2 linked regions of the Homo sapiens genome follow. The protein of the gene in region 1 purifies or fractionates together with the protein of each later gene. This does not show direct contact. Each region holds a gene or a part of one and is shown in the gene's direction. Other genes may lie near its edges.

Region 1 (4,119 bases):
TCTAACTTATTTTTTCTTGAATTGCTTGTGCTTTTGGTGTCATATCTAAGAAGATGTTACCAAATCCAAAGCAATGTTCTCCTATCATATTTTTGTAACAGTAGAATCTAACATGAATGAATAAGGAAATTCAGGAAATGATCATTTGAAGATGTTTGTATCACACCTGAATTAAGTGAGATTTAGTTATTGAAGAAGGCATTTCTTTGTGAACCTGTTCCCACAGGGAGAAATTAATTCACACATTCATTTAGCCAATATTTATTGAGCACCTTGTATATTCCAGGTATTGTTCTAGGCTCAGGGGACACAGCTGGGAACAAGACCAATTTCCTGCCCTCATAGAGCATACCTTGAGTTGGATAGGAAACACACACAAGCAATGAAGATATGAAAACCTTCAGATAGCAATAAGTGATCTGTTGAAACCAAAGTGGGGTTGGGCATTCCATTTGGATGGGATGTACAGGAAGGACTCACTCTCAAAGTGTCTCAAAGTGTCACAAAGAGTGGATAATTTGATGAACAGAAGCAAGCAACTATGATAAGGTCTGGGACAGAGTTTTGGAGGCAGAAGAAATGCCAAGTGAGATGAGAACACACTGGTGTGTATAAGAAAGGGCAAACAGGTCTTGTGTGTGTTGGGGTAGGAGGGGTGCACACGGGTGAGAAAAGAAGAGTTGCAGATAATAGGGAAAGCATATGAATGTTAAATAACTTTCTGGCTGCTCTGTGAAGAATGCACTCAAAGGGGCAGAGCAGACAGCATCTTTATCTTGTCATAAGGCTGTCACCTTATTCCGAGGCTTCCTTTGTAATTGCTAAACCCTTAAAGGTCACTGCCTACTTGACTATTTGAAAGTGAACTTCCCTCAGGTTTTGGAGCAGCTGTTACTTTTGGTTGAAAGCAAGGAACATCAGTCCGCTGCAACGTACCTTGGCGCCCCAGAGGGGGGTTCTTCTTGGGCAAGGGAGGCAGGCCTCCTTCGATCAGTGCAGGCGATGCTCTGGTGTTGCCCAAGTCTTTGCCTCCTTTAGTGCTTGCCCTTTCAACTGAGTTGCCTTTCCTGCTTTCCTGGCAGTCCCTTATTTTGCCTCTCTCCTCGCGCTTCCCTGGTCCTCCTTCACCCTCGTTTTCAATCCTCAATCGTGCATTTTCTGATGCTAGCAGGATTTGAACTGAGTGTTTCCACCAGGGCGACACTAGCAGTTCGCCCTTCAAGATCCAGATCCAAAATCCACCCTCTGGTCTTCGGCCAAGGAAAGGGGGCGGGTGGGGAGCGCGAACCTTATCTCCCGGGCTCCGCCTCCAGGGGGCTGAGAGCGAGTTTCTGAGCCTCTGAGCTCTGCACTGGCCGCTGCAGGGAGAACGGACTCCGGGCGGAGGGCAGCCAATCCGTTTCAGCGCAGGTCTTGCTCGGGTTGGGCTTGCCACTGCCTGGAACATACCTGTCCCCCTGGCGCAACACTCAGCTGGCTGCGACGGCAACCCCGAGCCTGGACACTGCGCCAGGTAAGGAGACACCTCCTACTCCCCTCTCGCTGCCAGAATGACATCTCGGGGGGCCTCAGGGCTGGCTCTCCAGGGGCTGCAATTTGGCATTTTGGGTTTCCTGGGGGTGCAGTCTTCTCCCTGCGCCAAAGCAGTTGGTGAACTGTTCGGTGAATTCCGCGCCCAGCTGGAGGCTGAGATGTCAGGATTTGTCTTGCAAAGTTACTTCATGTTAATGAATCTTGGGAGGTTCTCTGGGTGCAGATTCCTGCCTTGGAGTGTTTGGCTTCTGAGTACGATAACGTGCGTTGATTTACTCCCCTGAGCTCAACCCCACCCTCAGCTTTTAGCTTCTTGGAAGGGTCTCCAGCGTCCACACGTGGCGCTGAGCGCGCAGAGCTGTGGGTCTGGGGCTGTGTTGAGTGGGCCAGAGGTTCTTTACGGCTGCTGCATTATGGACTCACTCCGGGACCTTTAAAAAAATCGATGCTTGAGCAGCACCCCAGACCAATTACTCAGAATCTCTGGGGGTGGGACTTTGAGCATTAACATATTTAAAACTTTTGTCAGGTGATTCCAAAGTGCAGTCGAATATAGAAAGCAGCGAACTACAGCAGTGATTCGCTGTGTGGCATCTGGCCCGCAGCAGCAAGCACCTGGTAACTTTGAGAAATACAAACAAAATCTAGGGCTCTAGCTCCGCCCTAGACCCACTGAACCTAAAACCCTGAGGCTGGTGCCCAGAAACCTGTGTTTTAATGAGCCCTCCAGGTAATGCTAGTGCTTGCTCAAGTTTGAAAACTGTTGGGTTGGACCTTACTTAATCAGAGAAGACACCTGCAAATTTCCCTTCACCAAGGGAGGAGGCAACAGACCACTTTTCAGAAGAACCTTAGTTATTTATTAGTAGAGTTTTGCCCATATTGAAAAAAAAAAAGCATACTGGGGACTTTGAAAGATCTTATAAAGGGGAGACTTAAGCATCATCGAATAATTTTTAAGCAGTAGAATTTGTATACTTGCTTTAGGAGAGAATAGGAATTTTTCCTTTTCTAAAAGTTGAAATGAAGCCAAGGAAGAAATATACATGAGTCTTCCAGCTGTAATAACAGGAATCTTTGACCCCTGATGAAATGTTCCTGGATCATCACTGTCATCAGTGCAGGTTACAGCATTCATATGCGTATTTTGTCTTTTCCTAAAGTAGTTGAGGGTTTAAGGGATTCATGCCAATTCTCTTTAGTGAAAGGGAATTCAGTGTTGCAGGCCTCTGGATTATTGAAGTGGACCATTTTTTTTTTCTTTTTATAGATATCTGAGATTTCAAAATTTTGGCTAAAATAGTTCCAGCTGTTTCTAAGCCATTAGTTCAAAAATAGAATGACTTTGCAAATGGGCTTAAATGGATTAGAAATCTGACACTGGATAAGAAAATCTAGAATAGGCATGACTCCAATCCCAGCACATGCGTGCTGCAATGAACACAGGGCTAACTGTACCAAGACTTCCTGTACAGAGAACATTTATTTTCCAAACTGCTTTTTTTCTGTGCCAATTTGTGACTGAGGTATATAAACTTGTTAAGGGTTAGGTACTAAGCTTGTATTTAGAGAATCTGGGGGAAATTTAGATAGTGGTTAGGAACAGGAACTTTGGTCTGAGGCAGACCTGGGTTCAAGACCTGCTCTTCTGCTTCTCTGTGCTCTTGGATAGTTGCATAGCTTCTCCGAGCCTCATTTTCCTTATCTGTGAAATGTGGGGCGTACTAGTACACTTACCTCATAATTCACATTGTTGTCAGAGTTAAATAATGCTTCTAAAGTGCCTAGCATAGTAAGTTAAATATTTGTTAGCTCAAAATACAAACTCATGTATACACACCATCAAACAACATAATCCTCAACCACCTTAAAAGAAGATCTATGTTGATACATGATTAGATTTTTATTTAAATACCAACTGCACTCTTAGAAGGTGACTATATGGACATCCTCAAATTATCCTTATAATTTGATTACATACTTTATATGGAACTTTCTGGAAAAAGTTTTAGATTAGCTTCAAATCAATAGCCTAGGTTTTTTTAAGTCACTGTGGTGAAGGATTTCACCTTCTGGTAGCCTTTATAATGTATTAACATTCATATTTAAATAGCCGTAAAATCTGGTTCTTCAGAATACTTTTCTTTGTAAAAGAAAATCCAAATGAGAGAGCATCTAAAAGTGAGATGGTGTAGTCTCCAGGAAAGCTAGTTTAGAAGTACTATCTGGTGTTTCTTAGGTTCTTAACAGAGTGAATAAAGGAAACCCTATCCAGTTACATCATGATTTGTTCAAGAAAATATAAGAGGAAGCAAAATGAGGACACAGAGCAAGGACAAGCCTAAACTGGCAAAAAGAGTAGGTGAGGTAATGAGTCCTTTTCTTCCTTAGCTGCAATAATTTCAAAATGCTTCAAGTCACACACACATGCATACAATCAATTCCTTTCACATTATTTGATTGGAACTGATCTCTATTATCCTCTTAGGACCAAGTAGATCTAGTGAAAATATTTATGGTATTAATGCCAAAAAAGATGCCAAATGATTCTGTACTTTGAAATTAATTTCCATTCTCTTTTATTTT
Region 2 (3,500 bases), on another chromosome or scaffold:
TATATTTATTTCAGAGACAATGGTTGATTACTAAAAATAATCACAATTGAAATAGTTTTGCTAAGGTAATATTGGAGAAGAATGTCATTCTTTTTTTCATACATATGATGGACCAGAGTGACTAAGACATTACATGCTTTGCCTTAGTTCTCAAACATGTCAGCCTGATTAAAAAGGGGCAGTATACTCTCAGGACTAAAAGGATGTGCCCTTACATTTAGAAAAAAAAAGGCACACGTTTCTGTTCAAACAGTTGAGTGGTAAAAAGATGTGTTGCTTGTGGAAATAGTAATTGGTGTGGAAAGCTTCAATCTGAATGATGTAAATACAATAAAGGTTTTTGTTAGCTGCAATTAAAATGCACAGTGGAGGAGAAAAGACTATTAAGATCGTATTCTGTTGTTTCTGTGCAGTTGTATTGACTCTGGGTGAGTTGTATAGACAATATACCTGATTGTATCTTTGGGCACATCACAAATGAGGGTTTGTGAAAGTAGAATGGAAAATTTGTTTCAAGTTGCTTTAGGCATTGGTGATTTTCTGTCCAACCTCCTGTCATTCTTGTCTAAAGTATAAGGAAAAAAATATGGCAGAAGCTTTTGATCTGGAATACACTTCATGTCCAAAAGCTACACGAAGGAGCAACTGTGTGTGTGTGTGTATGTGTGTGTGTATAAGTTGAAACACTGAATAATTCCCCAGAGATTAATTTCTGAATTTAGCTGACACGTTGTATACAGTAATTCCCCTTTATCTATGGTTTTGCTTTCCATGGTTTCAAGTCTACTGTGGATTGAAAATACGAAGATATGTTGAGATAGAGAAAGTGTAAACATTCATGTAACTTTTATTACAGCATATTGTTATAGTTGTTCTATTATTGTTGTTAGTCTTACTGTACTTTATGTATAAATTAAACTTTATTATAAGTATATATGTGTAGGAAAAAACGTAGTGTATGTGTAGCGTTTGTTACTATCTGCTTTCAAGCATCCACTGGGGTCATGGAATGTATCACCCTCACATAAGGCGGGGACTGCTGTACTCCTTAAGGCATTTTTCTTTGAGGCTAGTCTAGTAAGACATAATATCATATTTCCGTTAATATCTAACTGCATTTCTTGGTCAAGATCTTGCCTTGATGTTCTCTAAAAGAAAGGCGCACAGTCTTAGGGGCAAAACTTGTTTTGCAGTTTTTATGAAATCAGTCATGTTCAGAGTGAGAATATAGATGTGGGAAAGGATGCAACGTTCATGTGCTCCCAGCTGTATTTCTTCATGTTTTCCTTTTTCTATAAAATATTTAAGATGGCTTAATGAATGGTAAGAGAATATAATTTTGGAGAATTTTAGGCTATATTCAGTGGTATTTTGGTAAATGTGTAACAACTGGCTTTTGGAGGTGGAGGATTCCCTGATTTAAAGTGCTTGCCCATTTGTTTGGTGTAAATACTTCTACCATGGCTGATTTCAAGTTTCCAATGTGAAATTACTGAACATGGACTTGGCAGAAAAAGTTAACTTTGGGGAGCCAGTATGAGCTGGGTCTAGTGCACCACTGGTTGTATGTTATGATTCATGCTATCAAATTCTTTAATTTTAAATAGAAACACCGTCTATACAATAGATTATAATAGTCTAATTGTAACAACTGATTGAGATATGATAGCTATAATACAAATGCCAAACAGATACCAACCCAAAATTGAAATGTATCCAAAGGGGCAGTGGTTTATCTCCTAAATCTCATTAAATATAGTGTATACAATGTAATCTTATATATATATCATTGAATATATTTGTATGTTGATTCAATAATTTATGTATACAAAATCTAAACACAAAGCATTTATTTTAAAAAGGTAAAAATGAAACTTAAAATTGTTTGTATTTGTGGTATATAAGAATGTCTTCTCTTTACTTTCAGAGGAGTATGGAATGTCCCATATATGGCTAATGTGTACTTAATTAAAGGAAAGACACTCCGATCAGAGATGAATGAAAGGAACTATTTTGTTCGTGATAAACTGGATCCTGATATGGCTCTTTGCCGAAATGCTAGAGAAATGGTAAGATATGCAGTGATGGCTTGCTTGAATGTTCTTATAAGATGGCTTGCTTTACCAGTTGGTGTGTCACTGTGTTTTGATGCCCTTTGTCTTGCTAATTTGTAAGTACTAGCCAATTTTTTTGGTTCTGTGTTAAAAAATTTGGGAGTAATTTTGGAGATAATTTAACATTTACTTATAGAAATGGTATGAAAAATGTTAGTTTTTGTGCTCGGGCTAATTCATAGGCAACCGAGTTGGATTTCAGTAATAAAGATGTATTTGTTACAAATCAGCTTTGCTCTTTTAAGAATACATCTTTAATTTGAAATTCTATAGTGAAAACTTGACCTAATTAAAATTAATTAGATAAGCTTCGATGAAACAATATTTCCAGATTTAAGAATATTTTTGTTCTAAAATTAATGTCCACATTTTCTCTAACTAGGTAAAATTTTAAAATTATTATTAACTTCACATTCTTAGAAAGCAGGATTATTACCACCAAACTAGTAGAAGTGTTGAGATACATAGTGTATTTACTCTAAATAAAATACTAATGATACCTTGCTGCACTACAAATGTACTTTTATTATAAAACTTAAAATGACTAGAAAATAATTTTTCAAAATGCATAAACATGGCTTAGAATATATTGATATGATTTTTGGTTTTAGAAATGATGGGGCTATTTTATTTCCGATTTCCAAATTTATATAAGCAATTGTGATTTGATGAAAAGTCAGAAAAGTTGGCAAGTATTTTTTTCTTAGTTTAACAAAGCATGTATTGTTTGAATATGTTTGTTTTCTCTACAAACCTGTGTGCATTATTATTGAATATCCTCAGTACTTGTGATAGTATTTTGTGCTCATGTTTGGCTAATTTGACTCAACAGCGCATCATGGAATGGCCTCTCTTACTCATTTTTTCCGTTGTCTTATGTGTCTAATGAAAGTTCTGCTAAGGAATGAGCTTAGACTTATGTTTGACCCCACCACACCTCCCAAAAAGAAAAGAAAAGAAGGGCTGAAAGAGCTGGAGATGTTTCTTTGTGTGTGCTATAAGCTTTGCTTGTTCTGCATGTTGTCTATGAAGGACATTTCAGAATGTTAGCTTTTGATCAACAGCTGCTATTATTTTTATTTACCAAAGAATACCTGAGAGAGCGGGTGTACAGGTCAACTTACCCAATGCTTCTCTTCATTTTAGACTTTACAAAGGGAAAAAGACTCCCCTACTCCGGAAACATTCCAAATGCTCAGCCCCCCAAAGGTGTTATTTTTACTTATTTTATTTATTTTTGTTTATTTAATATTTGATATAGTATATTGCCTAGTAGTAAAGTTTCTTTAAGGGCCTTATTTGCATTTAGCTTGGTAAAATGTTGATTTTCATCAGTCATCTGTGTGTTTGCGTGTTTTGTGTGACTTGGGCATGGGTCTTGTGTGA

Evidence for each region. Proteins that work in one complex are often made in the same cells at the same time.
Region 2: the proteins of COL21A1 (region 1) and PLOD2 purify together in Homo sapiens (affinity purification with mass spectrometry; one large-scale study listed by BioGRID and IntAct). This does not show direct contact.

What each region holds. Positions count from the first base shown.
Region 1 is NC_000006.12:56,244,781-56,248,899, reverse strand, and holds the start of COL21A1 (collagen alpha-1(XXI) chain isoform a precursor), read left to right. Parts: upstream 1-1,319; 5' UTR 1,320-1,513; intron 1,514-4,119.
Region 2 is NC_000003.12:146,077,685-146,081,184, reverse strand, and holds part of PLOD2 (procollagen-lysine,2-oxoglutarate 5-dioxygenase 2 isoform 1 precursor), read left to right. Parts: intron 1-1,927; coding exon 1,928-2,069; intron 2,070-3,260; coding exon 3,261-3,323; intron 3,324-3,500. UniProt on the Homo sapiens protein: Forms hydroxylysine residues in -Xaa-Lys-Gly- sequences in collagens. These hydroxylysines serve as sites of attachment for carbohydrate units and are essential for the stability of the intermolecular collagen cross-links.